Linked DNA regions of Homo sapiens: regions 1, 2 and 4 are each reported to be linked to region 3. Evidence: microRNA targets listed by miRTarBase, many of them from high-throughput screens and not tested one by one. Region 3 holds a microRNA gene; each other region holds the end of a gene's coding sequence.
What was found. Region 3 holds the annotated microRNA hsa-miR-615-3p (UCCGAGCCUGGGUCUCCCUCUU, at 2,229-2,250, opposite strand). A microRNA usually pairs through its seed, bases 2 to 8, with sites in the 3' UTR of a target mRNA and lowers its output. Matches are read on the target gene's strand: a 7mer-m8 pairs with bases 2 to 8, a 7mer-A1 pairs with bases 2 to 7 and ends in A, and an 8mer does both.

Region 1: the mRNA of RNF185 is a reported target of hsa-miR-615-3p. Seed matches in the 3' UTR shown: 7mer-m8 at 4,579-4,585.
Region 2: miRTarBase lists TM9SF1 as a target of hsa-miR-615-3p. The part of its 3' UTR that is shown has no 7-base or 8-base seed match.
Region 4: miRTarBase lists KDELR1 as a target of hsa-miR-615-3p. The part of its 3' UTR that is shown has no 7-base or 8-base seed match.

The regions. Positions count from the first base shown.
Region 1 is chr22:31,203,743-31,211,333 of GRCh38, reverse strand. RNF185 (ring finger protein 185) reads right to left here. Exons shown (of 7, transcript NM_152267.4): 7 at 4,315-6,845. The coding sequence ends at 6,748. Among named protein-coding and RNA genes, the nearest start is that of LIMK2, 4.8 kb to the left of the region's middle.
Region 2 is chr14:24,182,591-24,190,181 of GRCh38, forward strand. It overlaps TM9SF1 (transmembrane 9 superfamily member 1), which reads right to left. Exons shown (of 6, transcript NM_006405.7): 6 at 6,559-7,218. The coding sequence ends at 6,825. It overlaps IPO4 (importin 4), which reads right to left and starts at 6,226. Exons shown (of 30, transcript NM_024658.4): 1 at 6,129-6,226; 2 at 5,962-6,048; 3 at 5,754-5,833; 4 at 5,626-5,667; 5 at 5,077-5,206; 6 at 4,810-4,989; 7 at 4,495-4,560; 8 at 4,288-4,389; 9 at 4,118-4,201; 10 at 3,697-3,861; 11 at 3,539-3,592; 12 at 3,271-3,380; 13 at 2,869-2,977; 14 at 2,593-2,722; 10 more. The coding sequence starts at 6,197. RefSeq lists silencers at 5,222-5,432, 5,678-5,797.
Region 3 is chr12:54,028,669-54,036,259 of GRCh38, reverse strand. It overlaps MIR615 (microRNA 615), which reads right to left and starts at 2,310; the gene lies at 2,215-2,310. HOXC6 (homeobox C6) reads right to left here. Exons shown (of 2, transcript NM_004503.4): 1 at 7,339-7,591; 2 at 5,437-6,605. The coding sequence ends at 6,298. HOXC5 (homeobox C5) reads right to left here and starts at 3,210. Exons shown (of 2, transcript NM_018953.4): 1 at 2,684-3,210; 2 at 899-1,982. The coding sequence starts at 3,137. The coding sequence ends at 1,768. It also overlaps a transcript of HOXC4 not described here. RefSeq lists a silencer at 2,112-2,171 and enhancers at 2,255-3,406, 3,401-3,695.
Region 4 is chr19:48,377,496-48,385,086 of GRCh38, reverse strand. KDELR1 (KDEL endoplasmic reticulum protein retention receptor 1) reads left to right here. Exons shown (of 5, transcript NM_006801.3): 4 at 605-857; 5 at 1,760-2,512. The coding sequence ends at 1,794. Among named protein-coding and RNA genes, the nearest start is that of KDELR1, 10 kb to the left of the region's middle.

The sequences.
Region 1 (7,591 bases), not on the chromosome of region 3:
TTAGGTTTGGAAGGAGATTGGGGTCCTCTGTGTGATTAAGATATTAATACATCATCAGCCAGGCCAGCTGGTCCCTGATGACCCACCCTCCCATCAGATTCTCTCACGCTGGGTCTTTCACAATTGTCATTTCCTTACATCAGATTTAGATCACAGGAAACATGTCCAAATGACCAGAAAGAGGATGGAGCCCAGGGAAATGGATTCTGTCCCCTCCACCCCCACCCCTGACCAAAGACAAAGTTCAACCCAGCTGCCTCTGGTCCCAGCAGTTGGGTAAGCAAAGGCAAAGGCAAAGACAAAGGCGAGCACAATTCTCTTCCTTCCTGCTCTAATTCAAACCGGATGCCGGTCAGATTTTTCTCTTCTGGGTGTGGCAGGTGGCTCACGATGTCCTGAGTGTGCACAAAGTGCTGGGGAGGAGGGCTCTGTCCCATTTCCGTTAATTCCTGGGAACTCTTTTCAGTACTCAGTTTTGTAGTTTCTGAGGAAATCATTATAGTAAACACAAGATTGTGTATTGAATTAAAGTGACAGGAATCCAGAGACTCTCCTGACAAGCTGCCTCATGGCTAGCAAACAGGGGACAGGGACTTTCCCCATCCTTCCTACAGAAAGATGTAACACTGTATTTTCCCAGGCAACAAAGCACTGGCATCCTGGGAACCAAAACCTCCTGGGTGTCTTCCCTCTCCCTCCGTTCCACACCAAGGCACCCAGGTCTATCTCTTCTCCCTCCTCATTCTCTCTCACATTCCACTTCCTCCTACCTCCAGCCTCATGGTCTTCACCAGCAGGGAGCTGGGGAATAGCCAAGTCCCCCAAGTTCCTCCCAGGGAAGTTCAGGCGACTCTGAGAAACACAAGTTGAAAATGTAATGGAAGGGAATAGCTTTCTATAGAAATGCTATAGCCAAGAGATATATTTTTAATATGGACCCAAAGAACATTCCAGAAATCACTTGTGAACTCAAGGGGGACTTCTGGAGGGTAGAGAAAGCCTGGGCAGGGAGTAGACCAACTGAGTTTCAATAGCACCCAGGTTACCTGTCCACAGTTTGTTTCACTGGCCATAGCTTGGTCAGTCCCTAGGGCCAGATCCTGCCAGCCGCCTCACAGTCAACTCTCTGAGCCTAGGATCCTGAAACCTGGACCTTGAAAAACAACTCAAGGTTCTGCCCTCTTGAAGGTACTGGTCCACTGGTACCCAACCAGACTTGCCCAGTGTCACTTCCACTTGCTTCAAACTGAGCCAGTCTCTGCCCTCCCTGAATCATCCTACCCAAAACTGACTGTGTTAATCTTCCAAAAGTATGTTTCTGGACCTGTCATCTCTCTGTTCAAAACCCTTCAACAGCACCCCACTGCCTACAAAATAAAAGCCAAACCAGTCCTCATGAGCTGACTACATCTCACCCTGCGGACTTGTCTCCCTATTCCCTTCACTCCAGGACTCTGCTTTTTCCTGAGCACATCCTGCCTTGCGCCACCTGCCATTCCTACAACAACCAGCTCTCCAGGTTCTCTGTAATTTTGTGCCCCACTCTGCCCAGAGTGCAGTCTTGTTTCTCAACTCTAAATGATATAGTGGCATCTGTAACATCACAAAGTAGGACTACCAGACATTAAGTGCCTCCAGGTAAGACGCACCAAGTATATACTATCACCTATGACGTAGTCTTACAAAACAAAAATAATAAGCTTGAATCTGGTCAAGCTTCTAGATCTAACAACCAACTTACAGGAAATACATGGAGAAGAGGAGCTTAATAACATTTCCATGATGCAAATAGCAAAAATGATGCTGTGGGAAATGCAACAGGACAAATAACCTAGTTTCTTTAACAGATAAACTGCAGAGTAGAAAAAATTTCATAGACAGGCCAGGCAAGGTGGCTCACCCCTGTAATCCTAGCACTTTGGGAGGCTGAGGCGGGTGGATCATGAGGTCAGGAGCTTGAGACCATCCTGGCTGACATGGTGAAACCCCGTCTGTACTAAAAATACAAAAAAAATTAGCCGGGCGTGGTGGCGGGCACCTGTAGTCTCAGCTACTTGGGAGGCTGAGGCAGGAGAATTGTGTGAACCCAGGAGGTGGAGCTTGCAGTTAGCCGAGATCCCGCCACTGCACTTCAGCCTGGGCAACAGAGCGAGACTCTGTCACACAAACACACACACAAAAAAACAAAAAATTAGCCAGGCATGATGGCGGGCGCCTGTAGTCCCAGCTACCAAGGAGGCTGAGGCATGAGAATCACTTGAACCCGGGAGACGGGGGCTGTAGTGAGCTGGGATCGCATCACTGCACTCCAGTCTGGGCGGCAAGTGAAACTCTGTCTCAAAAAAAAAAAAAAAAAAAATTCAGAGACAAATAATAGCAATGTATGAAACTGATTTGGATCTCAATTGAAACTACACAAGTTATGAGACAACTAGGGAAATCTGAACAATGTGATTGGATATGATGATTTTAAGAAATTTTTTAAAGGTATTTTGCTTTTTTTTTTTTTTTGAGATGGAGTCTTGCTCTGTCGCCCCGACTGGAGTGCACTGGTGCGATCTCGGCTCACTGCAACCTCTGCCTCCCGGGTTCAAGCGATTCTCCTGCCTCAGTCTCCCGAGTTGCTGAGACTACAGGCGCCTACCGCTACGCCTGGCTAATTTTTTGTATTTTAGTAGAGACGGGGTTTCACTATGTTGCCCAGGTTGGTCTCAAACTCCTGAGCTCTGGCAATCCGCCCGCCTCACCCTCCCAAAGTGCTAGGATCACAGGTGTGTGCCATCGTGCCCGGCATATTTTGCTTGTTTTTAAAATACTTGAGATGCATATCGAAATACTTAATAAATGACATGACTGGGGTTTGTTTCCGAATAGTTCAGACAGTGGGAGAGGAACAGCGTGCGGGAGGTATAGATGCAACAAGACTGATCTGAGTTGATAGTTACTGGAGTTGGGTTATGGCTACATGGAGGCTTTATTGTCCTGTTCTACTACTGTTTTTTTTTTTTTTTCCCCATCGAAAACAAAAACCTAAGGCCGGGCATGGTGGCTTAAACCTGTAATTCCAACACTTTGGGAGGCTGAGGTGGGAGAACCTACTGAGACCGGGAGTTCCAGGCTGCAGTAAGCTGTGATCACACCACTGCACTCTAGCCAGGGCACCCGAGTAAGACCCTGTTTCTAAAAGGGTCTGTTGCCCTGGCTGGAATGCACTAGCATGATCACAACTCACTGCAGCCTTGACCTCCCAGGCTCAGGTGATCTTCCCACCTCAGCCTCCCTCCCGGGTAGCTGGGACCACAAGCATGCACCACTGTGCCTGGCTAATATTTTTTATTTTTGTAGAGATGGAGTCTCCCTGTGTTGCCCAGGCTGGTCTCAAACTCTTGGCCTCAAGCGATCCTCCCACCTCAGCCTCACAAAGTGCTGGGGTTTGTAGGTGTAAGCCACCATGCCTGGCCTAAAATTAAAATCTTTCAAAAAAAAAAAAAAAACCTGGTCTTTTCTCATTGGGCTTATGAGCTCCTGAAGTTCCCTCACCTTTGCATTCCCCACTGTATCTTGGTACTATTCAATTTGATAACTGTTAGATCAAAATCTAAGAGGAAGAAAAAAAGCTCTTTTCAGAGGAATTACTTGTAGCTCTGGCATGTTGGGAAGGCTGAGGCTGGGCCAGATTTGTAACCTCAGCAACATCTTCCATCTCACACTACACCCTGCTACTAAGGAACCTTAGGGAGGGACACACCTTCTGCTCGAGAGAGAGGACTTGGCTGACAGCCCACCTGCCCTGTTACTAAACAGATGGAGAGACGCTGACAGTGAGTAACCTGATTGTTCTAAAGGCTCTGATAAGTGACAAGCTAAGCTCTATTGTGGCAGCTTGTCACTTACGAAGCTCAGGAATGCCATGTACTTGTCAGGACTGGGGCTGCCTGTCAGACAGGTTTTATATTGGGCAAGGCTGTGTATGAAGCCAGGCCTCCAGCCTACATTTATCATCTCTAATTATCAATAGTCGTTTAAAGACTTTCTTTCCTTTTTTTTAAGAGACAGTCTCGCTTTGTCACCCAGGCTGGAGTTCAGTGGCATGATCATAGCTCAATGCAGCCTTGAAACTCAGGGCTCAAGCAATCCTCTTGCCTCAGCCTCCAGAGTAACTAGGACTACAGGCATAAGTCATGCCCAGCTTCTTTGAAGACTTTCGTTCTCAGTGTGACATTACGGAGGATGCACAGGAGCCTCCAGGAGGGCATACCAGTGTGACTACTCCCCACCCACTCGCCCTCCACAACACAGACAAGAAGTCCAAGCTCATAGTAATGTAAAACCATTTGTTTAATTCTAAATCAAATCACTTTCACAACAGTGAAAATTAGTGACTGGTTAAGGTGTGCCACTGTACATATCATCATTTTCTGACTGGGGTCAGGACCTGGTCCTAGTCCACAAGGGTGGCAGGAGGAGGGTGGAGGCTAAGAACACAGAAAACACACAAAAGAAAGGAAAGCTGCCTTGGCAGAAGGATGAGGTGGTGAGCTTGCCGAGGGATGGTGGGAAGGGGGCTCCCTGTTGGGGCCGAGCCAGGAGTCCCAAGTCAGCTCTCCTGCCTTACTTAGCTCCTGGCAGAGGGTGAGTGGGGACCTACGAGGTTCAAAATCAAATGGCATTTGGCCAGCCTGGCTTTACTAACAGGTTCCCAGAGTGCCTCTGTTGGCTGAGCTCTCCTGGGCTCACTCCATTTCATTGAAGAGTCCAAATGATTCATTTTCCTACCCACAACTTTTCATTATTCTTCTGGAAACCCATTTCTGTTGAGTCCATCTGACTTAAGTCCTCTCTCCCTCCACTAGTTGGGGCCACTGCACTGAGGGGGGTCCCACCAATTCTCTCTAGAGAAGAGACACTCCAGAGGCCCCTGCAACTTTGCGGATTTCCAGAAGGTGATAAAAAGAGCACTCTTGAGTGGGTGCCCAGGAATGTTTAAAATCTATCAGGCACACTATAAAGCTGGTGGTTTCTTCCTACCAAGTGGATTCGGCATATGAACCACCTACTCAATACTTTATATTTTGTCTGTTTAAACACTGAACTCTGGTGTTGACAGGTACAAAGGAGAAGAGATGGGGACTGTGAAGAGGGGAGGGCTTCCCTCATCTTCCTCAAGATCTTTGTTTCCATAAACTATGCAGTCATAATTGAGAAAAAGCAATAGATGGGGCTTCCTACCATTTGTTGGTTATTGCTGGGGTTAGCCAGGAGCAGTGTGGATGGCAAAGTAGGAGAGAGGCCCAGAGGAAAGCCCATCTCCCTCCAGCTTTGGGGTCTCCAGAAAGAGGCTGGATTTCTGGGATGAAGCCTAGAAGGCAGAGCAAGAACTGTTCCACCAGGTGAACAGTCCTACCTGCTTGGTACCATAGTCCCTCAATAAGATTCAGAGGAAGAAGCTTATGAAACTGAAAATCAAATCAAGGTATTGGGAAGAATAATTTCCCCTCGATTCCACAGGAGGGAAGACCACACAATATCATTGTGCTGGGGCTCCCCAAGGCCCTGCCACCTGGCTTTACAAATCATCAGGGGTTGCCTGCTTGGCAGTCACATGCTTCCCTGGTTTTAGCACACATACAAGGAGTTTTCAGGGAACTCTATCAAGCCATACCAAAATCAGGGTCACATGTGGGTTTCCCCTTTCCTTGCCTCTTCATAAAAGACAACTTGGCTTCTGAGGATGGTGGTCTTTTGCATGCAGTTGGGCTGACCTGACAAAGCCCCCAGTTTCCTGTGGCAGGTTCTGGGAGAGGATGCATTCAAGCTTCTGCAGCCTAGGGGACAGGGCTGCTTGTTCAGTTATTACTGCCTCGGAGCTCCAAATCCCACCAAAGTCCTGACTCCAGGTCTTTCCTAATGCACAGTAGTCAGTCTCAGCTTCGGCAGTATTCTCGGCTGTATGTTCTCTGGCAGAGAGAGGCAGATGAACATAGTTTTAGGGAGAAAGCTGATGGGAAACCTGTGAGTTAAGCCACATGTCTCACCAGGAATAATTTATGCCAGGAAACCAGGAAGTCATTCAAGTTGTTCTCTGAGGCCAAAGACACTGAGCACAGCCCAGAGCCAATAAAAGATCTTTGAGTCTCTGGTGAATTCACGAAGTGACCCCAGCTTTAGCTACTGCAATTATGATTTTTATGGGACAGCAATTTCTTGCATCTCTACAGAGGAAGAAGAGGGGGAGTGGGAGGGGAAGGAAAGAGAACAGAGCGGCACTGGGATTTGAAAGGGGAACCTCTCTATCTGAGGAGCCCCCACTGGCTTCAGAAGCAACTTACCAAGGGGTATTTAAAGACATGAAAATTTCCAGAAATACCATTTGGTGCATCCCTTTGTTTCTGTAATATTAAACTCAGGTGAAATTATACTCTGACAGTTTCTCTCTTTCTGCCTCTTCCCTCTGCAGAGTCAGGACCTGCAGAACTGGCTGAAACAAGATTTCATGGTGTCACCCATGAGAGATGACTCAATGCCAAGGCCTGAAGTTATAGAGTGTTTACAGCGGTGGCGATATTCAGGGGTCATCGCCAACTGGTCTCGAGTTCCAAAGCTCTGATGAAGAAACAAGACTCCTTGATGTGTTACTGATCCCACTGATTCCAGGAGTCAAGATTAGCCAGGAAGCCAAACACCAGGAGTTGGGGTGGCACGTCACCAGTCCAGAGCCCTGCCACGGATGTAGGCAGGAGCCCAGCATTAGGCAATCAGGAGCCAGAACATGATCACCAGGGCCACAAATAGGAAGAGGCGTGACAGGAACTGCTCGTCCACATACTGGGGTGTCCCAGGGACAGCTGGAGAGACAGAAAGGAGAAAACAGGCTATTAGAACACTGCAGCTATGCACACTGCCCACTCAGGCCAGAAGTTGACAGCATCAATCTTTATCTCTTTACAACATCAGAATCCTACACACAAAAAGATTTCTTTTTTTTTTTTTTGAAATGTAGTCTCGCTCTGTTGCCCAGGCTAGAGTGCAGTGGCACGATCTCAGCTCACTGCAACCTCCGCTTCCCAGGTTCAAGCGATTCTCCTGCCTCAGCCTCCTAAGTAGCTGGGATTACAGGTGTGCGCCACCAAGCCTGGCTAATTTTTGTATTTTTAGTAGAGACGGGGTTTCACCATGTTGGTCAGGCTGGTCTCGAACTCCTGACCTTGTGATCCGCCTGCCTCAGCCTCCAAAAGTGCTGGGATTACAGGCATGAGCCACCATGCCTGGCCTTTTTTTTTTTTTTTCTTTTTGAGGTGGAGTTTTGCTCTTGTTGCCCAGGCTGGAGTGCAATGGCACGATCTCGGCTCACTGCAACCTCCACCTCCTAGGTTCAAGCGATTCTGCTGCCTCAGCCTCCTGAGTAGCTGGGATTACAGGCACGCACCACCACACCCGGCTAATTTTTTTTTTGTATTTTTAGTAGGAACAGGGTTTCACCATGTTAGCCAGGCTGGTCTCAAACTCCTGACCTCAGATGATCCGCCCACCTCAGCCTCCCAAAGCGTTGGCATTACAGGCATGAGCCATCGCGCCCAGCCAAAAAAAATTT
Region 2 (7,591 bases), not on the chromosome of region 3:
CCAAGCACACCCCAGTCCACACTGCTCTCCTTCCCTGAACTCCCACTGGCTTAGTGGGATCAGGGTTGTATCCCTCTGGCCATTACCAGTCTCTTTTAGTGGCCCTGGCTGCCCCAGGCCAAGCCCAAATACACTGTCCACCCCTGTCCCTGTGGAGACTGCCTGGACCGCCTGGTCCCCGTTTTTATCCCTGGCTCTCACCTGATCATCATCTTCCTCTTCCTCCTCCTCGTCAGTATCCTGACAGGCTGTCTACAAGAAGTAGCTCAACTTAGCGGAGCTTTCACGCCCCTTCTCTTTTCATGGGGGTAGGGGGTGGACTTGTAGCCAGTCCCCAACCGAGGCCCAGCACCTCTCCTTCCCGAAGCCCACCTGCCCTGCTCACCTTCCTCTGCAGCACAGCCTTGAGCACGCCACAGAGCTCAGCGAGGCGCCCAGGGGGCTTCAGTGTGAGGGTCCCACAGCTGCGGAGCACCCCTGTCAGGGCCTCCAGCACGGCCATCACCACCTGGCGTTCCCGCTCCCTGTTCACTGCCTGCATGTAGGATGGCACGACTCGGGCCAGGGCAGCCTGCAAAGCTGGGGACATTATTGGCTGAAGCACCAGTCAGGCCCTGCCCCTCCCCAAGAACCCCCAGCCTGGCCCAGCCTCTCCTCACCAGCAGTGTTGGGTTCCGAGGGGCAGCTTTGACAGGCCTTGTGCAGTGCACAGCAAAACTGACCCAGAGCCTCATGGGCTGCCTTCCGCACATTCAGGTGAGGGCACTGCAGGATGAGGAGGGGCGGGATATGTCTGCTATGTGCACCGTGAACACAGGGCCCCCAGCCTGAGAACCCCACCCACTCCACCCGCCGGCCCGCTCACCTCCAGCAGTTTAAATACTTCTTCAAAGACACTTTCCATGTATGGAAGGAAGGCCACACTACAGAGAGAGACACAGCCGTGGGTAAGGGGCCCCCAGGCAGGGTTTTCAGTGCCAGGGAAGGGCGAATGCTCACCTGGTGTTCACAGAGATCTCCCCCACGGCAGCACAGGTGTCTTCCTTCTCATCGAAGAAGGCATTCTCCACGCTGTACCTAGAGTAAGAAGGGGAGGCAGTGGTGATCAGGCACCAAGAGGAGCAGATCCAGCACTAGGCCCTTGTCTAAAGCCAAAGTCTAGATTCCTGATCAGAAGAGCACCCCTCCGCACCCTGAGATCTCTGAGTCATCCTCTTCTTCCACATCCTCATCCATGAGCTCCTCCTCTTCTTCCCCATCACTCTCATCGTCAAACAGAAGGAAGGAGCTGCTCCCGTCATACTGAGGCTGGAGCGGAGGCACGGCAAGGACTTTGGCTCAGCTGGGCCCAGGAGATAAATCCCATTGCAGGGCAGGCCTGGCCCAGCCCACCCACCCTTTGCTCACCACAATGCCCTCGGTGGAACGCAGTGACAGCAGCATGAGCGTGGTGATCTGTTCCAAGTGGGGCGCCAGGCCCTCACCCATCAGACCCGATAAGGCTGCAAATAGGCTGTACCTGGTCAAAGCAGGCAGAAGAAGCTGTAAGGTCCTGCCTGCTACCACCAGGCAGGATGGGGGAGCCCGGGAACACCTGGCTATGGTCCAAACCAGACGACTGGAGTCTGGGGTGGGGATTCCAGTGGGTCCAGTGGGAAGACAGGAGGGGAGGGGACAAGGGCAGAGGCAGGGTGAGGGGTCACTCACGTGCAGCGCCGCAAGTCAGGGTCGTCTACCTGGTCGCAGAGGCCCAGACCCAGCTGGCAGCATTCCTCAGCCAGCGGCCTCATGGGCTCCCCCACTGCTCGTGCCAGCACCCCCAGTGTCTCTGTGGGGGCAAGGGCTCCATTAGCACCAGGAGGTGGAGGTGGGCTACGGGACCAAAGGTGGTGGCTGGGAGGGATTCAGAAATCCCGCCCCACCCCTTGGTACAGCATGAAGCACACCCCTTTGATGAGAAGGAAGACATCCGTGCTCCTGTGGGGGCAATCTGTCAACACCAGGTGAGCACCAGCCCTTTGCTGGCACTGGGAGCCCCACCTGGGAACCTCTCACTCACCCAGGCTCTGGATCTGCACAGGCTGAAGGTCCTCACGGCCTGTTAACAGGAATTCCCGCAGGTGCTCCATGATGGCAGGGAAGTAGGGCAGCAGCGAGGCCTGGGCAGCCGTAGCTGCAGGATGGAAGGACAGAATCAGAGCTGGAGAGGGCAGGGACCACCAGCCACAGGGCCTTTGGGTGAACCCCACATCCCTGCCTCCTGCCTCTCTCCTCACCAATGGCTCCCAGGGCGCTCACAGCCAGCTCCTTGGCCCGGGGACTGCTGGGGTTCCTCAGAAGCTGCAGCATGCATTCCATAAGCTCCGGAAGGTAGGGCTGCACCTTGGGCCCTGTGGGAAAGGATGCTCCTCTACCAACCAACCCAGGTCTGCTACCTGCACGCCCACCTCCCTCCAGGCGGAAACCTTTTTTTGGCACCATCACACCCTTTCCCCTACCACAGGCAGCAATGCAGGGAGATGCACATCCTGTACATTCAGCCAAAGCCGCCGCCTCATCCCCCTTCCCCAAGCTCCCCACTGCCATCACTACCTAGGTTCTCCACAAAATTCTCCAGGGCATAGCAGGCCTTGGCTAGGTGGTGTGTGTGTCCAAGAGGCACCGACTTCAAGTAGGCGAGGAGCAGTGGCATTACCTCCCTTGAATAGCTGCTGATATGGGGCTGGGGGAGGGAGCAAGCAGGGCCTGAGTCAGGTTCACCTGCCGGGCACACACAAGAGTGCTGATGGCAGCAGGGATGCTTGAAGAGATGAAAGATGAGGGGAAGGGGACATTCAAGTGGTGGCTCCCACATTCAGCCTGGTTCACCTGTAGGTTTTCTGAGAACTGGCCCAGGGCAAACAGCGCAGCATTGCGTACAACTTGCGAGGGGTCCTCCAGGCCCTTGCACACAATCTGCAGCAGTGGGGGCAGCAGTCTGGATGGGGCAAACAAGAGGACATAGGCTGAGAAGCTACACCTGAGAGCCCTAGGCTGACCTGTTCTCTTCATTTTCCCTGGAAAAACCAAGGCTTTTCCTGTCACCAGAGGGTGGGCAGCAGCCCCTGGTCCCTATAGCTGGTAAGCCATGTCATTTATCTTCCAAGCCAGGACACTTTTGATAATGGGGGGAAACGCTGTTGATAAATAAGCTTGAACAACAAGCGTAAACCAGGACAGCCATGGTCCTCCCTGTGGGCAACCCTCACCCTGGGACAGGGGAATACATACCTCTGCCTGATGTGGTCGCCAGCTCCGTCAGACAGCACGGCCAGCACCAGGAGTCCAGCTTTGCGCTGGTATGGGCTCTCGCTCCGCAAAGCCTCTTCCAACATGGGCATCTAGGGAAGCATGTGGCACGCTTCTGAAACCCCAGCAAGAGCCTGCCCATTCCTGTGGTAATAGGCCTTCACACCTCCCAGGGTCTAAACGTCGTTGGCCTCAGGGGGACTAGGCACACTTGGAGGTAGGGACACCAGAAGGACAGAGCCACACTTACCAGCTGGGGACAGAGCTTCTCGGGGGGCAGGTGTAGTGCCAGCATGTCCACAACCTGAGATGGGATGGGGAGACTTACTTTGCTTGACTCCATCTCTGCCTCCCCAACGTCCCACAGCCACCTAACACCTTCCCCCTCTGTCCTGCCCCACATCTCACTTGTACAGCGAAATGCTTGGGAGTCTCCCCCATCAGCTCAATCTCCAACTCTTCCTCTTCTGAATCCTGGTCCTCGGGATCCAACTGGCCTGGTGGGGGCTCAGCAGCCACAATGGGGAAAAGGGTGTGCAGCAAGGGTGGCAGGAGACGATTCTTCAGTAAGGCCTTGACAGAGAAGGTGGAACAGTGTCCCTAAGAATCTGCTCCCAGGATGGGCTCACATTAAAAATTCCAGTCTTCCAGGCCATAAGGGGTCTGACAGAAAATTCCCAACCTCCCAGGCAGGAGCTGGGGTGAGGCCAGGCCAAGGCTTGAACCCCCACAGTACTTTAGATACCCTGAGATGGACCGAAAGCCCCAGGAGTGAGACTAAGGGTGGAGATGGGGGTGGGGTGATGTGTGTCAATGGGCACTCACTTACCTTGCTCTTGACTTTGACCAAGAAAGTGAGGCAGCAGAGAATACGTATGCGTATCGCATTGCCCAGGGCCACATTTCTAGCTACCTGTCCACAGAATAATAAAAATCAGCGACAGGGAAGGAGAGTCCCAGCAGAGCATGTAGCAGGGGCCATGTCCACTCCAGGCTCACCTCCAGGCAGAATGTGAGGACTTCAGAGAGGTAGGGGGTGATGACCGGCACCTCTGACTCCAACAGTTCATCCAAAGCCTCAAGGGCCTCACAGGCCTTTGCCTGACAGACAAACAAGGCACAAGGTTACCATGCTCTTCTTCAGTGGGCCAAACTGGACACTTCTGCACTCTCCTTCCAACAGAGCTCCTGCCCACCTGTCCTCACCTCATCTATGGGGATCAGAGTCTGCATGGCCATGATCAGCTTGGGCACCAACATCCGAGCGAGAGGCTGAGGGACACATCACAGAGAGCATGATGCAGCCCAATCTCACACCCCAGCAGCTGGCAGCTTCCTCACAGCCTGAATTGCGAGGAGGAGCCCAGGCATAACAGCCAGGCCCACCTACAGCATCCCCTCTCAATTGTCAGGAAGGGCCACAGGCAGGTAAAGAATCCAAAGCAGCTTTGTAACTTTTACGGGTGAGGACATGAAGGCATGAGGAAAGGGAGTCAAAGATAACGAGGGCCCACATCTCACCACATCTTCAGTGCTGAGGTAGGGAGCCATGGTGGTCAGAGTGCGCAGGGAGTAGAAGAGCAGCCCAGGAGAGCCCACCTCACCAAGAGTCTCATTCAGAAGCCGAAGAAGCTCCCGGTGGTGGGGTTGGAAGGCCTCGGGCCGGGAGGTCACCACCACACTTAGCAGCAAAAGCCCCATCTGTCCAAGAATAGAGGATGGGAGAGCAAGCTTACAAGGTCTATCCAGCCTCTCAGGCCCTCCCTCCTGCCAACCATGTGATGGTACCTCTCTCTCTGGGCTGTGGGGGCTGTGGGTACTGTGCTGAAGCAGCTGCAAAAGCTGTGGCCAGGCCTCCAAGCCTTCCTTTCGAAAAATGGTGGCTGAGAGCTGGGCCAGGCTGAGGCTCACACAGTGCCTGCAAACAGGAGAGATCTCCTCCAATCACCCTTCAATACCTTCCTCTGCACACAGTGGCCAGGCTCAATGGGGCAGCCAGGACAGAAACTTTCAGGAGGTGTGGGCACAGGGTCTTTGCCAAGTTGGGACACATGAGACAGCAGCTCAGAGGGAGCCCAACAGCACTGTGGGCATGTAATCTGGTAAGTTCAGTCTAACTTAGCCTGAATTTCAGTCTTATTCTTCTGACTTGGGTTTGGCAGATCATCATCACCCTTCCTCAAGAACTTTAGTCTTCAAAACAGCCTTAAAATCCTCACTCCACCTTGCGTCTAGAACTGAAGTCCCTGCCCCACAAGTCCCAGCCTGGAGCCGAAAAGGAAGGCAGAAACCTAGACAAAGTCGTCAAGATCCCGAGAGAAGTGGGTAGGTACTTACTCTGTTTCTCTCTGCAGGGCCGTCAGGATCAGGGACTTGAGGCTGGAACACAGGTGGCAGGTGTTTGGTACCCAGCCTGCCCAAGAAAAGTCTCCGCCTGGCCCCGCCCCACCCCAGGCCCAGCCCACCTCTCCCGTTGCTCCGCCGCCAGCCGTCGCCAGCGGGTGTTCAGTCGTCTGCGGGTCAGCACGGCCGCAAACTGGCGGATCTAGGACGAGGAAGCAAGCACGTGGGGGTCCGGGCAGGAAGGTGCTGAGCGGACCGCAGTGGGCGAATACTGGGGCTTGACCGGTGGCGTACAGTGGGAAGCTCGGAGGGGAGAGTCAGGGGTCTCACCTGGGGGTCGGCCGCCGAGGCTAGCAGGTCGCAGAGAGCCGGCAAAGCGGCGGGGGCCCGAAGAACGATCTGGAGCTGTTCCGTGGCCTGGGGGGAAGCTAGGGGTGAGAGTTGGGCCTTTCCCGCAACCTCCCGCTCGCCCTGGCCCGGTTACGCCTGCTCCGTACCCGACGGATGCGCTCGGTGTCCGGTAGCAGCAGCTCCCGTAGGAGCTGCTCTAGCCCGGCTGACTCCATGGCAGCAACTGAGCCGCCGCTACTGGGCCGAAAAGGGGAGGGGGAGGGACAGCACGTGGAGGTTCTGACACCCACTTCCGGAGGAAAGGGCGTTGCTGCACGCCCCGCGGGTTGCCAAGGTGATTCAATTCGCTTCCCACAAAGAGGTCCGGCTCCTCCACTTCCGTTAGGCTGAGCACCGGCTGAATCGCGGAAACCCGACTCTGGCAATGTAGGTTCCCCACGCCGGGAGTTCCCAAGCTGGGTTGGAGAACTCGAGCTTCGGGCATTCAGTGGCCAGCTCGGCTTTATAAAGGACCGTGCCCTTAACAGCAGGGCTCGAGTTCCTATATCCAGACCAAAACCTCCAACTGCATGAGCCTTTTTCTTAATAAATTTTATTTTGGTAATTGTAAAAAGAAAAATCAGGACCAAAACTAAAGGCAACTTAAAAAGTTCAAATATATAATCCTTATGTGATAGAGATTTATAATTTCCAGGCCCTCTCTGGGGAAGGAATGCCCAAAGGGCAAAAGGGAAGGCAACAATGCCATCACACAATTCAGTCAATCAGAAGAGAAGCTGGTAGGAGAGTTCAACAGGGCATGAAGAAAGGGAGAGAACAGCAATAGTTCTGCCATACAGAACTCAGTCCATCTTGAGGTTAACATAGATATACCGGATGAACTTTAGGGAAGAAAAAAAGGAGATGGTGCCCAGCATGAGGAAGAAGACATAACCAGTGAGTAAGGAGTAGCCGAAGAACTCTACTGTCTGTACTGCCCCAGACATGTTGGAGCGCCGGGCATAATAGAAAACTGAGTAGAGGAAGATGAAGAGGCCGGTGGAGCCAACACTCAGCACAGATCGCCACCACCAGCGGTAATCCTCCCCAGACAACTGGAAGTAGGTGAGTGCAATGGAGATGCAAGCCCCCACACTCAGCAGGATGGCGAAGACAAAGAAGAGGATGCCGTACAAAGTGTACTGCTCCCGACCCCATACTGTGGCAAAGATGTAGTACAGCTCCACAGAGATGGCACTGTGAAGAAAAGAGATGATACACAGCATTAAAGGGCTGTGCACCATCAGCACAGTGGCTGGGCTGAAATCCAGCCCCCACCCTCTCCCATGTTGCTGGGTCATTGTGAAAAGTGAGTTCACTCCACTCTCTGCCCCAGATCTCCTGGCTTCATGGGGATTTTTTGCCTATGATTAGCCGCTCTCACTTCAAGAATATCTTCCCTAATAGATTGAGGGCAGGGATCTTGTCCATTTTATTCCACTTTATTCTTTGCCTGGCACAAAGAGGTATTCAACAAAGTAAATGGGTCATCAAATGGGCTTTAAACCCCACATGATGTCCATAGGCATTAAAGTCAGAAACCAGGAAGGTGAAGGGGGAAATGTCTCCG
Region 3 (7,591 bases):
GAAATGCAGTAAAGTTTTATGGACCCTTCCCACATTTGTTTCTACTGTAAAGTGCTTCCTCCCCCAGCCCATCCCAGGAGCCTGGAGAAGGACCTGATCCTCAGACACTACCTGAATTATCTGCCTCCTCCCACCCCCACTTTTAACCCATCCTCCCCTCCACACAAAATCCCAGAGACTGAGATAAATGATGGCAGACAGACGTGACTCCAGCACTGGTCTATGCAGCTCCTTTCCCAGTTAATTGTCCTGCATAGCCCGAGGCCCTAGAAGGTGGTGGAAACAGTCTGAACATTTCCTGCCAGGCTGATACACACTGCAGATTGTCCTCCCTGCTCCCTCTTCCCCAGTATCTTAGATACTGAGGCACACCTCCTCCAACTCTCCCAACACCCCCTTACCAAGCAATACCACCTCCCTCTAGAGGCCCTTATGAGACCAAATGGGTCCCTAGAGTGAGGGCTCAGCCCTCCCTCTATGTCCAGCAAGGCCTCTCAGGGACCACCTAGGCCCAGGAAAGATCTTCAGAGGCCCAGAAGGTCCTAAGGCTGAGCACGGTGGAGCCACTGGTTCCTGCACCGCAGCTTTGGCACACAGTGGGGGCTGCTGCCAGTCCAGAGGCCTCCTGGAGTGCAGAGGCGTGAAGGCCTTGGACAGCCACAGCATGGGAAAAGCCAGTACTCGAGGCCTAGGTGCCCTTCTCTTCCCCCAGAGGCTCTTGTTGCAGCCAAGGAACAGGAAAGGAGCTCAATTTCACCTCCCTCTACTCACTGCCCCTAGAAGCTAGAAAATTTTTTAAAGGGGTGGCTTAAAGTTTGTGGGTCTCCTTCTACATCTCACAGCCCATTTAGACAATTTTACCCAATACATGCCCCAAACAGACAGGAGCCACTGCATCTTTAGTCCTGTTCTCTCTTTATTTGATATGACAAAATATAGTTTCAGGAAGGACCCAGAGTCAATAAATAGTTGGACAACAGCAATGGGTCAGGAGGGCACAGAAATTCGTGGCAGGGACTATGGGACAGCAAAGGGCCTCTAGGACCACTTGCTGGGGTCCAGTGCCAGGAAACCCCACTAGTTGAGCTAGCTAGCAGGCTGGGGCTGCCGGCCTGAGAGGGCATGCAGCAGGCGCAGGCTGGGGAGGTTCCCGGGTTTTGGGGGGAAGAGGTTGTGGAGATAAGGTTTGGAAAGCATAGAGCAACTGTGGGGGCCCTAGGCCGATGCTCTCCTTTCATATGCAAATCATTCATAAGTGAAAATCTAGTTTAGTCGCTACAAGGAAGCACCCCGAGTCTAGGGCCAGACTCTCGCCAGCCTTTGGCTGTCTAACCCGTCCAGCCGGGAACAAAGGAGAGGGCGAGGTTAGAGGGTCCGGCGAGGGTCCTGTGGCGCGGGCCGGGCCCACCTTAACTCGGGAGGGCCGCGCTGAGGCTGGGAGCCGGAGATACGGCCCAGGCCAAGGTTCGTTCTGCGCCAGCCTGTACGCCGCAGCCCTCCGGGGAAGTCCTGCGGAGCTTGCCCTGGGCCCCGGGTACCGAGCTGAGCCGAGCTGAGGGGAGATGGGGCAGCGCCGACAGCCCCGCGGGAACCCTGGGTCGGTAGGGATGCGGAATGCCAAGGAAAAGCGCTTTTGTCTGTGGGGCCCGGGAGCCCAGTGCTCCAGCACCTGCCCCCGACCCGAAATATAGAGAGGAAAGGCGAAAAGGAAAGGCGCAGGGACAGGAACCGGCTAGGGGCGCGCTCTGCGGGCCTCCCCCGCTGCCTCTAAAGAGCCTCTTTGCTTTTCATTTTGGAATCTTTCTTCCACTTCATCCTGCGGTTCTGGAACCAGATCTTGATCTGTCTCTCATTGAGACACAAGTTGTTGGCGATCTCTATGCGCCTGCGGCGAGTGAGGTAGCGGTTAAAGTGGAATTCTTTCTCGAGTTCCAGAGTCTGGTAGCGCGTGTAACTGGTTCGGGACCGCTTGCCGTCCGTCTCTGGAACATAAACCCCACCCCAAGCCAGGAAGGGGTGAATAGCTTGCAGCGTTCCCCCGTCCCCACCCCAGCCCAGGCCCCCACCCGCGGCCGGAGGGAGAGGAGGCGAGAGCCGCAAGACAGGCCACGCGGGCCGCAGGCGGGCCAGCCCAGCCCAGCCCCGGGAGAGGCGCCTCCGCCCAGGCAGGAAACTTTCCACCGCAGCCTTCACTCTGCAGCCGGAGGGGCTGAGGGGGGGTTGGGGGGAAGAGGGAGACCCAGGCTCGGACCGAACAATAAGCACCCTCGAGATCCGAGCACCGGGGACCCCCCTCCCGCCCCTCCCGAGTCGCTGGAATCCTCCGGAGCCGCAAGCGCCGGCGGAGCCGGCTCCGCAGGGGAGGGAGGGAGGGAGCCGCGGGGGGATCCCCGCTCTGGAGCCCCGCGCTCCTCACCCTTCAGATCCCTCTATTTTTTTAACTCCCTCCCTCTCCCCCAAAAATTGAATATTGCCTTTTATACACGTTTTGTTCCTATGATCCAATTATGTCGTCGTAAATTTGGGCGCACACAGCCTCTAAGCCTTTTAGTGGACAGTTTTACGAGCCATTGATGCCTGGATCGTAAAATTTATGGCCGCAGGTTTTTTTTCTTTATTTGCCCCGCATGGCCTATAAAACCCAGGCGGACCCGAGAGCGCAAAATGAAGTCCTAAAGTTTACCGTGGCTCATGTGCAGTTTGGTCATCCACGGGTAAATCTGTGGCGGGGCCGGTGGCTGGCTCAGTCCGGCGGGCTGCCCTGTCTGCGCCTGCTCCTCTTTGATCTCCCCACTGCTCTTAGCTCGCTCCTCCAGCGCCGGGCGAGCCGCCTTCTGACTGTACATCCCGGGGTTCAGAGGAGCCGCTTCGTCTCTGCCCGGAGCGTGTCCCGGAGCGGCCGCGGCGCTGCAGGCGGGGCGGTCGGGGTGAGCCCGGGGGTTGGCAGCCATGTCTACCCCGTGGAGAGAGTTGGAAGGCGCAGGCGGTGGGAAAGTGATGCTTAAGTCCAATCCGCCGTAGCAGTACCTGGATGCCTGCACCTCTGAGGCCGATCCATAGTTCCCACAAGTTTGCATGTTATAGGCAGGGATATTGGGGCTCTGCTTATAGAATGAATTGGCTACGTAGGAGCTCATGGCGGGGAGGGCCCAAAAAAATTTCTGCACCCTTTTTGATTAAGGGTGATTTGTGACTCTTTGAAGTTGAGGGGTTTTTTGTTCTCCAAAGTGGACAATTTATAGGTGGAGATATCTCTTTCTTTATCCTATGCGCTCTTCCCAAATAAGGGAGCCTTAAATAGAGTCACGTGACTCGAGCGGCCACTCATAAATTTGGCTTGATGACCTCCGGGAGGTTAGTGATGGAAGCCGGCGAAAAGCATCTCGATATGTTGGCAAAGCCCAACCAAGGGGGAGAGGGAGTGAGAGAGAGAAAGAGGGAAGGGGGAGGGAAAAAAAAAAAAAGGTTCTTGGAATTGGGGGTAGCCGGGACAACAAGCCCACAGCGACACCTGGTGCCTATGTGGGGGAATTGCATCCTGGAGCGCCAGCTTGCTTTCCGGTGGCTGGATTTCCTACACTGTGAAGGAGAAGCTGGTTGTTGGGGCAACCCCTGAGCTAGCCTTTTAAATTCTATTTAAAATTGGGAAAAGACGAGGCCCCACTTATAACGCACAGAGTGCTTTTTGTAATGAAAGTCCCGTTCTCCCAACCTCCAGGGTCTTCCAATCTTCAAAAATGGCTGAGGAAAGGGGATTAAGTTAGGTAAGGTGGCCTATGCCCAGGCTGGAGAACCAATGGGGTTTAACTTAGGTTCCCTAAACCAAAGGTAGAAGTCCCTTGCCTCTCAGGCCCTAAGGCTCCACTACTGCTGAAGAGGTGCCTATCAGCAAGAGAAAGTAGAATTAGCTTCTGAAGAGGTAGACAGGACGCCCAGGAGGAGGGATCCTGAGTGGTCAGAACAAGATAGGGGGGTCATGAAGCTGAGGGTGTTGCAGGCTGTTTGGGATGGATCTGGAGGTGAGGAGCCAGGTGGAGTTGGCTAGACCTCACCATGCTAGGGTCCCCAGAGTGGCAACAAGGCAATTTTCAAGTGTGTGTGTGGACACGGACAGAGCCAGACAATGGTCTAGAGGACTGCTCTGTTTCCCTGTGTGCGATCCTTATGTGGTACCTATGCCAGAGGTTTTAGACAGAAAATAGATGTTAATTGAGGACATGGAGAAGCAAGATTGAAGCCTCCACAAATATTACGTGAGCATGGCAGAGGAAAAGGCCCGTTATGTGCCCTTTGGGGAAAAGGTCTCTGGGCTAGGCTTTCCAGGGACCTGAATCCATAAGGTTCACAAGAGAGCAATTTCTGAGCTACCAAGAGGAATGGGGCGGACCTGGGGGGTGGGCAGGGCAGGCGCCTGGGTAGCCTTCGCAGGGTATCTGCAGCCATTCGGCCCCATCCTCTTCCCCCGTAGCCCCAAGTCTCATACTTCCCTGCCTGCTTCTTCCCAGGAAATCTCCGCCCCGCCAGGAGAAGGCCCCCTCCTCACTGGTGGAGGCACTGGAGGCGAGGGTGGGGGCGCTGGAGGGAATCTGAAGGGCCCGGAAAACTCTGGCGGATTTTTTCCCTCCGGAGACCCTCCTCAACACCTCTCCCTGTAGGCCCACTCAGGTTTCTCTGGCCAGGCTTGGAGAGAGAAGGCCAGGGTTGATAAATGGTTAGGGTCCGGCTGCGCTCCTCACCCGCCTCTTCACCCGTTTGAGGAGAGAAAAGTAAGGAACCAGCCCGGCTGGAGCTGTAATGAAGAAGGAATTTTGTCCCGGCCACGTCAGGAGTACCAGAGCAGGCGAGAGCTCAGTTTCCAGGCTTTCTCTCTCGAGATGTCCTTGAATCGCTCAATCCCTGCCGACAGGGCTCCAGTCCCGCGGTCTTCTCTTTCCCTCCGCTCTCCGCCTCCGCTACGTTTCGCAACAGCCAGCTTGGCGCGGGCCTGGGGCTTGCTCTCACGGCGCCCCCCGCCTCCAACTCCCGGGAGTGGGTGGAGGAGACCCTGGTGCCTGGATAGTGCTTCTTTACTGGTCTTTCGGGGCGCCTCAGGGTTCGGACGCCGAGGACACCGGCTGCCACAGGCAGGAAGAAAGGCCTGCGTGGGGTTGGTGCCCAAACCGACTGATCCCAGCTCCCCCCGCAACAAAATCCTACGCGGCTTTTTCCCGCAGGGTGTGTGTGTTGCTCCGCGCAGGGAGCCCAGAGAGGCCTCCCAGCCCCTCAGTGCGATCGCGAGAACGAACAGAAGGCCGGGGCCGGGCGCCTGGGCTCCGGGGAAGGCGAGTGCAGAGGGCTGGGGGCTTGCAGGGGGCCGGCAGGCGCGGGAGCGCTTGGAGCCTGCTCCAGCTCTCACCCTGAGGCCGGCGGGCGAGCGAATTAACAGAATTCCCGGTATAAAGTTTTAAAAATAATATCAGTTTTATTAAATATTCGAGAACGGACCCAGAGGTTGGATTTATACAGGAGGGTAACACGAAGGGATTTATTTATTTATTTATTTTCTCCTACTGGCTAAACAAACGTCATTCACTTTTTTTCTCTCTTTTTGTAATTTTCCCTCTTTTTTTTCCTTTTTTGAAATTGGATAGGAACACTGACGGTGCTAAACATAAATATAAATACAGAGACCACAAATACAGCTAAAAATCTTCACACAGAAACGGTCACAGTTTGTAAAATGCCATAATGACCCCCAGGATTCTTTAAATACAATTTGCCTGGGCTGGGCATTTGCTGGGGCAGAGGGGCTAGGCAGGGACTGCGGGGAGGCCCTGGGGGTTGGTGTGGGGCCAAGGCGCGCCCTCCTTGGGCCTCCGGCCCTCCCCGGCTGCCAGGCCGGGCCCTGAGGCCCTGGAGCAGAGGCCCCAGCAGGCCCAGGAGCCGGCTCTCTGCACGGGGGGCGGGGGTGGGGGCGTCGAAGGAGTGGGGGAGCCAAGTCCTCACTTGGAGGGCAATCTGTAGAGTCTGAGTTCAGGGTCCGAGCCCCCAAGGCCTGGACGGGGAAAAGGGCCTGTAGACAAGCCGAGAACGAGCTAGCAAGGGAGCGAGGAGGAGGAGGCGCGTGGTGAAAGAGAGTTGTGCGGTGAGGGAGGGGGTCCAGAGCTGACTTTCAGGTCCACGTTTGACTCCCTAATTTTGTTTTAGGGAATCAAAACACATCAATTGTGCCAGTGATAAATACAGAGTGTGTGATTAGGGGAGAGTTGGTGGGGAGCGAGGGAGAAAGGGAGAGAGGGGTGGCAGGGACAGTCCTGGTCACTCTTTCTGCTTCTCCTCTTCTGTCTCTTCCCGCTTTTCCTCTTTTCCGCCCAGGCTGTCGGCGGTGGCCCCTCCGCCGCCCCCCGAGAGAGTGGATGTGAGATTAGATTCTTTTTTCCACTTCATCCGGCGGTTCTGGAACCAGATTTTGATCTGTCGCTCGGTCAGGCAAAGCGCGTTGGCGATCTCGATGCGCCGGCGCCGCGTTAGGTAGCGATTGAAGTGAAATTCCTTCTCCAGTTCCAGGGTCTGGTACCGCGAGTAGATCTGGCGGCCGCGCCTCCGGTCCGCTCCGTAGCCGACCCCTAAAGATCCGGGCACAAAACACACTAAAAGCAATCAGCAAAGCGTCCTCTGCAGACTGTTTCGCCTAGCAAAGTCCTGACCCTCCCAACCTGGCCAGCAGCTCACAGCCTCCTTAGGGCTCTAGCCTTCTCCCTTTTGCCTTGCCCCACCCCCACTGGGGGTACAGCGAGGACCCCAACTTCAGACCTCCTATAAGGTGGGACCTGTGTGTCCCAAAGAAAGGTGTGTGGTGGGGGGGGGGGCGGGGGGGCGGGGCAAAAGGCAAACAGAAAGCTGCAAGTCTAAAAGCAGATTTTTGAAAAATCCCAGATAATGGGGATGAGGGCCCCCTTTCTCAAGGACTGGGCTCCCCCATCTCCCCAAGCATCCTAGTTCCTTGGAAACTTCTCCCCACTTATCTGCCTCTCCTCTCCCCCTCCCTTCTCCTCAGACTGACTCCACTTTGGGGGGCTCCCCTATCTTCTGCTCCCTCCCCTCATCCCCTGCCCTGTTCCTGCCCCCTCAGCCCGCCTTGGGGCCCTCCAATCCGTCAGGGGCCAAGGGGGCCAGGCCCCTGCAAGCGAGCGAGAGGCGAGCTGAGGGGGCAGAAGAGGGGGCCCTGTCTCGGTGAGGAGACGAGCGTGATTGTTTTTATGGGGCCATAAAAAACTCTCTCCGCCCGTTCTTCTAGGGAAGCCGGTCATAAAGCCAGTTCAGTTTATTTAATTTATATCTCGGAGCTGTAAAACTCACCACTGTGCGAATTCATTCGCTGCATCCAGGGGTAAATCTGGATACTGGCTTTCTGGTCCTGGGGCGCAGTCCTGCCCTGCTCAGAACTAAAATCCTGAGCGATTGAGGTCTGTGTGTTATGTCCTAAGGTGTTTTGTCTGCAGTTTGAGAGCATGTCTTTCTCCTGGTAAAAGGAATTAGATCCATAGTCATACGGCCCCCGGCTGGAACTGAACACGACATTCTCCTGTGGCGAATAAAAGGGAGTCGAGTA
Region 4 (7,591 bases), not on the chromosome of region 3:
GGCAAAACCCTGTCTCTACTACAAATACAAAAATTAGCCGGGTGTGGTGGTGGGCACCTGTAATCCCAGCTACTCAGGAGGCTGAGGCAGGAGAAACGCTTGAACCCAAGAGGCAGAGGTTGCAGTGAGCCGAGATCACCCCATGGCACTCCAGCCTGGGTGACAGAGTGATACTCCATCTCAAAAAAAAAAAAAAGAAAAAGAAAAAGGAAGGGAAATTTCCAAGGCAAGATTCCAACCCAGCCTGCCTTTCAGAGAGGCGCAATTGCAAAGTGTTCATGAGAACGGACTGCGAATCCTTGGTTCGAATCATTGCTCTGCTGCTTGCTGGCTACATGGTCTTGGGCGAGTATCTTACCTTCTCTGGTGTCAGTTTCCTCATCTGTAGAATAAGTGTGCTAATCATAGGATCTCCTCGCCGGGCCATGGTGATGATTAAATCAGAGGTACCAGTAACTCGGGCAGAACTGTGTCTGGCACTTGGCAGCACCTGGATCACCTTCCTTCTCTCCACCTTCGCGGCACCTGTAACTGCAATGTTGTCCTCTGCCTTTTCTCCCGCCCTGTCCCCTCCCACCTCATCATGTCCCCGGCCTCTCTGCAGATCCTCTGGACCTTCTCCATCTACCTGGAGTCAGTGGCCATCTTGCCGCAGCTGTTCATGGTGAGCAAGACCGGCGAGGCGGAGACCATCACCAGCCACTACTTGTTTGCGCTAGGCGTTTACCGCACGCTCTATCTCTTCAACTGGATCTGGCGCTACCATTTCGAGGGCTTCTTCGACCTCATCGCCATTGTGGCAGGCCTGGTCCAGACAGTCCTCTACTGCGATTTCTTCTACCTCTATATCACCAAAGGTAGCTGGAATGTGGGACGGCTGGAAGGGAACCTCCTATTTCTGCAGCTCCTGCCCTCCCTGGGGACTGGGGTCTCCTTACCCCTGTATTATGCAAAGAAGGGAGCATTTCTTCGCCGGGTTTCTGGGGTGGCAGGCCTACCATCCTCCTAGGAATTCAGACCGTTAGCCTCTGCCTCCCTAAGGGCTAAGGAGTTTCTGTCCTTAGCCCCCATGTCACTTGGAGCGTAGGCCAGGCAGGGCAGGGACTCAGCCCACTGAAATTCATTCATTTATTCATGCAACAAATGTATTGAGTACTTTCTATGTCCCCAGCCAGGTGCTAGGCTCTGGGGATACATTAGGAGGAGAAAAGATAGACAAAGGCCTCCATTTCCCTTTTATTCTGGTGGGGGAGATGGTGAATGAACAAGTAAAGAAAGAATTAGTTGGGCATGGTGGCTCATACCTGTAATCCCAGCACTTTGGGAGACTGAGGCAGGGAGATTTCTTAAGCCTAGGAGTTCCAGAGCAACATAGCAAGACCCTGTCACTATAAAAAATAAAAAAATAAAAAAATTAGCTGGGCATGGTGGTGCACGCCTGTGGTCCCAGCTCCTTGGGAGGCTGAGGTGGGAGAATTGCTTGAGGAGGTCAAGGCTGCATGGAGCTGTGACTATGCCACTGCACTCCAGCCTGGGCTACAGAGTGGGACCTTGTCTCAAAAAAAGAAAGAAAGAAAATTGCCAGTAGTGAGAAAGGGTAGGAAGGAAAGAAACCAGGAATGTATCTGTGAGTCCTGGGGGACCTCCCTCCCTGTGGATCTGCCCATCTAGCGTGCCTGCCCTGCTCTGGCTGTGGGAGGCTGTCCCCTCCCTGCAGGGGCCCCAGCGGTAATGCCCTCCCTGTTTTCTCTCCTCACAGTCCTAAAGGGGAAGAAGTTGAGTTTGCCGGCATAGCCCCGGTCCTCTCCATCTCTCTCCTCGGCAGCAGCGGGAGGCAGAGGAAGGCGGCAGAAGATGAAGAGCTTTCCCATCCAGGGGTGACTTTTTTAAGAACCCACCTCTTGTGCTCCCCATCCCGCCTCCTGCCGGGTTTCAGGGGGACAGTGGAGGATCCAGGTCTTGGGGAGCTCAGGACTTGGGCTGTTTGTAGTTTTTTGCCTTTTAGACAAGAAAAAAAAATCTTTCCACTCTTTAGTTTTTGATTCTGATGACTCGTTTTTCTTCTACTCTGTGGCCCCAATTTTTATAAAGTGTTTTTGAGTGTCCTATGGGCCGGGGCAGGGTCCAAGATCTTTTCCCTTCCCCAGGCCCCTCGGCTCCCTCCCAGATCCCACCCCCAGCCCCACTGGTTGCCAAACACTAAATCTGCCGACACCCATCTGCCCCACCTCCTGCCATGGCCATGAACCGCGACCCCCACTAAATTTCTAGATTGGGGATAGGGAGAAAGGGAGGCCCAGGAAGGTCTCCCCTGATTTTTTTTCATAGTAATTTTTTTCCCCAGAGTTTGAATTTTTTGGTCTTCTCCTGGTTTTTTGGCAAATTAGGGGGGCCCGGGGCTCAAGTGCGGGAAGGGGGCTGGCCCGAGGATCCCATGGCTCTCACACCATGTTTTTGTACAGAACTGATGGTTGAATCTTTGTTCTCTTGAAATAAACAGAAGAAAATGAAACCTTTCTTTTGCTGCTCCTTGCCACTCTGTCCCTGGTGTGTATGGGGTCCCGCCCCCGCCCCTCTTTCTGCTTCTGCTTTTGCCTTATTGACTATCTGTAGGCGACGAGGCCTAGGAGGAGCAGGAAGAGGAGAAACTGGGTCTCCCAAGACTCTCAGCTGTGCAGTTCCTCGCCGTGCTGCTGGGAAGAGGTTTTGGAGAGAATCTTGAAGAGTCTTCTTACCTTGGCACAGAACTTGTCTGATGGTTCTCCAAACCCTCAGGGTTGCAGAGGACCTTCAGGAGAATTGGCTGGGCATGGTGGCTCATGCCTGTAATCCCAGCACTTTGGGAGGCTGAGGCGGGCGGATCACCTGAGGTCAGGAGTTTGAGACCAGCCTGACCAACATGGCAAAACCCCGTCTCTACTAAAAATACAAAAAAAAATTAGCTGGGCGTGGTGGTGTGCCCCTGTAGTCCCAGCTACTCAGGAGGCTGAGGCAGGAAAATTGCATGAACCCAGGAGGCGAATATTTCAGTGAGCCGAGATCACACCACTGTACTCCAACCTGGGCAACAGAGTGAGACTCCATCTCAAAAAAAAAAAAAGAGCATGTATGTCAGGGACCACACATGGGCAGCCCCCGTCCTACCCTCACTTGACATTTTTTGTTGAGGCATTCTGTTTCCTTAAAAAAAGAGAATGGGTCGCTAGCCTTTAAAAACCAGATTTTCACATTTCTGGCTTCTCTTGAAAAAAAAAATCCATCAGTCTAACAATGCTGGGTCCTCATTTCTGGGTGGCAACAGATGGCTGGATCTGAATGGATGGGACGCAGCTCTTTTCACCACAGTCCCCAGGACTTGGCTGCAGGCTTGTTACATTTATTATTGGGCTGATGCCGTGTGGTTATTTTTGTTTGTTTGCGAAGTTAAGAGGAAAGTGAAATATTTTCCTTGTCTCTCTCCAGATTGGCCTCACACCTGGCCTATTTTCTTCACTTACGTTACCTGCCTGGCTGTTGTTGGCTTTTGGATTTTTGACCCTTGACTAGGTCAAACTTCCTAGATGTCCTCTAAGACCTTCCTAACTGTCTGCAGCTTCCCTGGAGGCTGGCTCTGGAAGCCTGAGGAGGCAGGGAGCTGGCGTTTCCTGAGCACTTGATATGTGCCAGGTACTGTGTGTTACATAGATGAACTCCTGCAACCCTCACAGCATCCCTACAGAGGGGGCACTTTGTGGATGAGGAAACAGGTTCAGAGGGGTGAGTGGCAAAGGTGGGCTTTGCACCTGGACTTCGTGATGCCAGAGCTTGTGTGTTTAACCAACGCTGTGTGGTTTTTCAGCCGGTTTTTTGTTTCTTTCTCTTAAGTCAAGGGACCTTCTGTTTAGATTTGTGCCTGGAAGCCCGATATGGAAAACACAGGAGCGGGGCTGCTCGCTCGCTGGGGTTGACTGGGGAAGGGGGTTGTGTTGCTGCCTGCTCAGCCCAAGGCACCTCTTTTTTTTTTTTTTTTTTTTTTTGGAGACAGGTCTCACTCTCCCAGGCTGGAATGCTGTGGCGCGATCTTCTCTCACTGCAACTTCCGCCTCCTTGGTTCAAGTGATTTTCCTACCTCAGCCTGCAGAATAGCTGGGACTACAGGCGTGTACCATCACACCTGGCTAATTTTTTTTTTTTTTTTGAGACAGTCTCCCTCTATTGCCCAGGCTGGAGTGCAGTGGTGCAATCTCACCACACTGCAACCTCCGCCTCCTGGGTTCAAGCAATTCTCCTGCCTCAGCCTCCCAAGTAGCTGGGACTACAGGTGCCCGCCACCACGCCCAGCTAATTTTTGTATTTTAGAGACGGGGTTTTACTATGTTGGCCAGGCTGGTCTTGAACTCCCAACCTCAGGTGATCCACCTGCCTCAGCCCCCCAAAGTGCTGGGATTACAGGTGTGAGCCACCGCGCCCGGCCTAATTTTTGTATTTTTTGGTAGAGATGGGATTTCACCATGTTGGCCAGGCTGGTCTCAAACACTCCTGACTTCAAGTGATCCTCCTGCCTCAGCCCCGCAAAGTGCTGGGATTTCAGGCGTGAGCCACCGTGCCCAGCCCCAAGGCATCTCTCTTTTTTTTTTTTTTTGACAGAGTCTCGCTCCGTGGTCCAGGCTGGAGTACAGTGGCGCAATCTCAGCTCATTGCAACCTCCGCCTCCTGGGCTCAAGCAATTCTCTGCCTCAGCCTCTCAAGTAGCTGGGATTACAGGCGCCCACCACCACACCGGGCTAATTTTTGTATTTTTAGTAGAGACGGGGTTTCACCATCTTGGCCAGGCTGGTCTTGAACTCCTGCCCTCATGATCCACCTGCCTTGGCCTCCCAAAGTGCTGGGATTACAGGCGTGAGCCACTGTGCCCAGCCTAGTTTTTGTATTTTTTAGAGATGGGGTTTCACCATGTTGGCCAGGCTGGTCTTGAACTCCTGACTTCAGGTGTTCCACCCGCCTTGGCCTCCCAAAGTGCTGGGATTATAGTCGTGAGCCACCGCACCCGGCCGGCATCTCTTTGAATAGTCTGAAAAGCATCCATCTAAATCCGGTTCAATTCTTTAGCTGGGTGCAGTGGCTCACGCCTGTAATCCCAGCACTTTGGGAAGTGGAGGTGAGAGAATTGTTTGGGCTCAGGAGTTCAAGACCAGACTGGGCAACAGAGTGAGACACTCTCTTTAAAAAAAAAAAAAAAGGCCAGGCACGGTGGCTTATGCCTGTAATCGCAGCACTTTGGGAGGCCGAGGCTGGCGGATCACGAGTTCAGGAGATCGAGACCATCCTGGGTAACAAGGTGAAACCCCGTCTCTACTATACAATACAAAAATTAGCTGGGTGTGGTGGCATGTGCCTGTAGTCCCAGCTATTCAGGAGGCTGAGGCAGGAGAATCACTTGAACCTGGGAGGCAGAGGTTGCAGTGAGCCGAGACCGAGCCATTGCACTCCAGCCTGGGTGACAGAGTGAGACTCCATCTCAAAAAAAAAAATAAATAAAAAACAAAAAACTAACTGGACATGGTGGCCTTTACCTATAGTCCCAGCTACTCAGGAGGCTGAGGTGGGAAGATTGCTTGAGCCCAGGAAGTTGAGGCTGCAGTGAGCCATGATGACTCTGCTGCACTCCAGCCTGGGCAACAGAGATCCTGTCTTTAAAAAAAAAAAAAATCTGTCTAATTATTTAGTTTTATAGCCAATACAACTTGGGCCCAGAGACAGTAAGTGACACACCCATGCTTATCCAGAGGGACGTCTAGTGCTGAGTCCTCTCATTTCCATGTCAGAACACTTCCTGTCTCACTGCACTGCTGCTGTTTTCTCTCTATACCCAGCAGGACCACATAGTTATTTCTACACCTCCAGGTACAGGGCCAGCCACACAGGAAGCCTCCAAAAAAGGACTAATGGAACCCAAATTTGATTCCCCACATCTCATATCCTTTCGTCCGGTTTGTGAACTAGTGCTCTGCAGGCCACGATGGCCCCAGGCAGGTGTGTTTCGTTTGGACTGCCCAACGTTTATTTTGTATTTGTTACCCACCGATTTCACTTTTTTTTTTTGAGATGGAGTCTTGCTTTGTCACCCAGGCTGAAGTGCAGTGGCACCACCTCGGATCACTGCAACCTCCACCTCCTGGGTTCAAGCGATGCTCCTGCCTCAGCCTCCTGAGTAGCTGGGACTACACGCGCACGCCACCACACCTGGCTAATCTTTGTATTTTTGTTTTTTTTTTTTTTTTTTCTGAGACAGAGTTTCACTCTTGTTGCCCAGGCTGGAGTGCAATGGCACGATCTCAGCTCACCGCAACCTCCGCCTCCCAGATTCAAGTGATTCTCCTGCCTCAGCCTCCCAAGTAGCTGGGACTAGAGGCATGCGCCACCACGCCCAGCTAATTTTATATTTTTTAGTAGTGATGGGGTTTCTCCATGTTGGTCAGGCTGGTCTCGAACTGCCGGCCTCAAGTGATCTGCCTGCCTTGGCCTCCCAAAGTGCTGGGATTACTGGCGTGAGCCACTGCACCCGGCCTAATTTTTGTATTTTTAGCAGAGACGGGGTTTCACCATGTTGGTCAGGCTGGTGTTGAACTCCTGACCTCGTGATCCGCCCAGTTGGGCCTCCCAAAGTGCTGGGATTTTAGGTGTGAGTCACCGCACCTGGCCTGATTTCACATTTTAAAACCTGCCACAGAATGGATGTCCAAACTGTCGTAGAAAAACCAGAGTTTCTGTAGCTGCACTGTCTGGTAGGGTAGCCAGTGGTTATGTGTGACTGTCAAGCCCCTGAAACCTGGCGAGTCCAAACTGAGGCGTGCTATTGGTGTAAATACACGATGGGTTTCAAAAACTTAGTACCAAAGAGTGGAAAATGCCTCACTAATAATTTTTATATTGATTACATGTTGAAATGATATTTTGGATATATTGACATAAATAAAATATTAAAATTAATTTCACTTGTTTCATTTTACTTTTTTTTTTTTTTTTGAGACAGAGTCTCATTCTGGAGTGCAGTGGCATAATCTTGGCTCACCGCAACCTCCACTTCCTGGTTTCAAGTGATTCTCGTGCCTCTGACTCCCAAGTGGCTGGGATTACAGGCATACCCGGCTAATTTTCGTATTTTTAGTAGAGACGGGGTTTCACCATGTTGGTCAGGCTGGTCTTGAACTTCTGGCCTCCTCAAGTGATCTGCCCACCTCAGCCTCTCAAAGTGCTGGGATTATAGGCATGAGCCACCGCATCCACCTTGTTTTACTTTTCTTAATGTGGCCACTAGACTATTTTAAACTCCCCTTGGGTGTCACATCAGATTTCAAGTGGACAGCACTGTTCTAGAAACCCCAGGCTGGCCAGGCGTGGTGGCTCATGCCTATAATCCCAGCACTTTGGGAGGCCAAGGCAGGAGGACTGCTTGAGCCCAGGAGTTCAAGACCAGCCTGGGCAACATAGTGAGATCCCATCTCTTCAAAAAAATTGAAAAATTAGCTGGGAGTGGTGGCACACACCTGTAGTCCCAGCTACTTTGGGGCTTGAGGCAGGAGGATTGCTTGATGCCAGGAGGTCAAGGCTG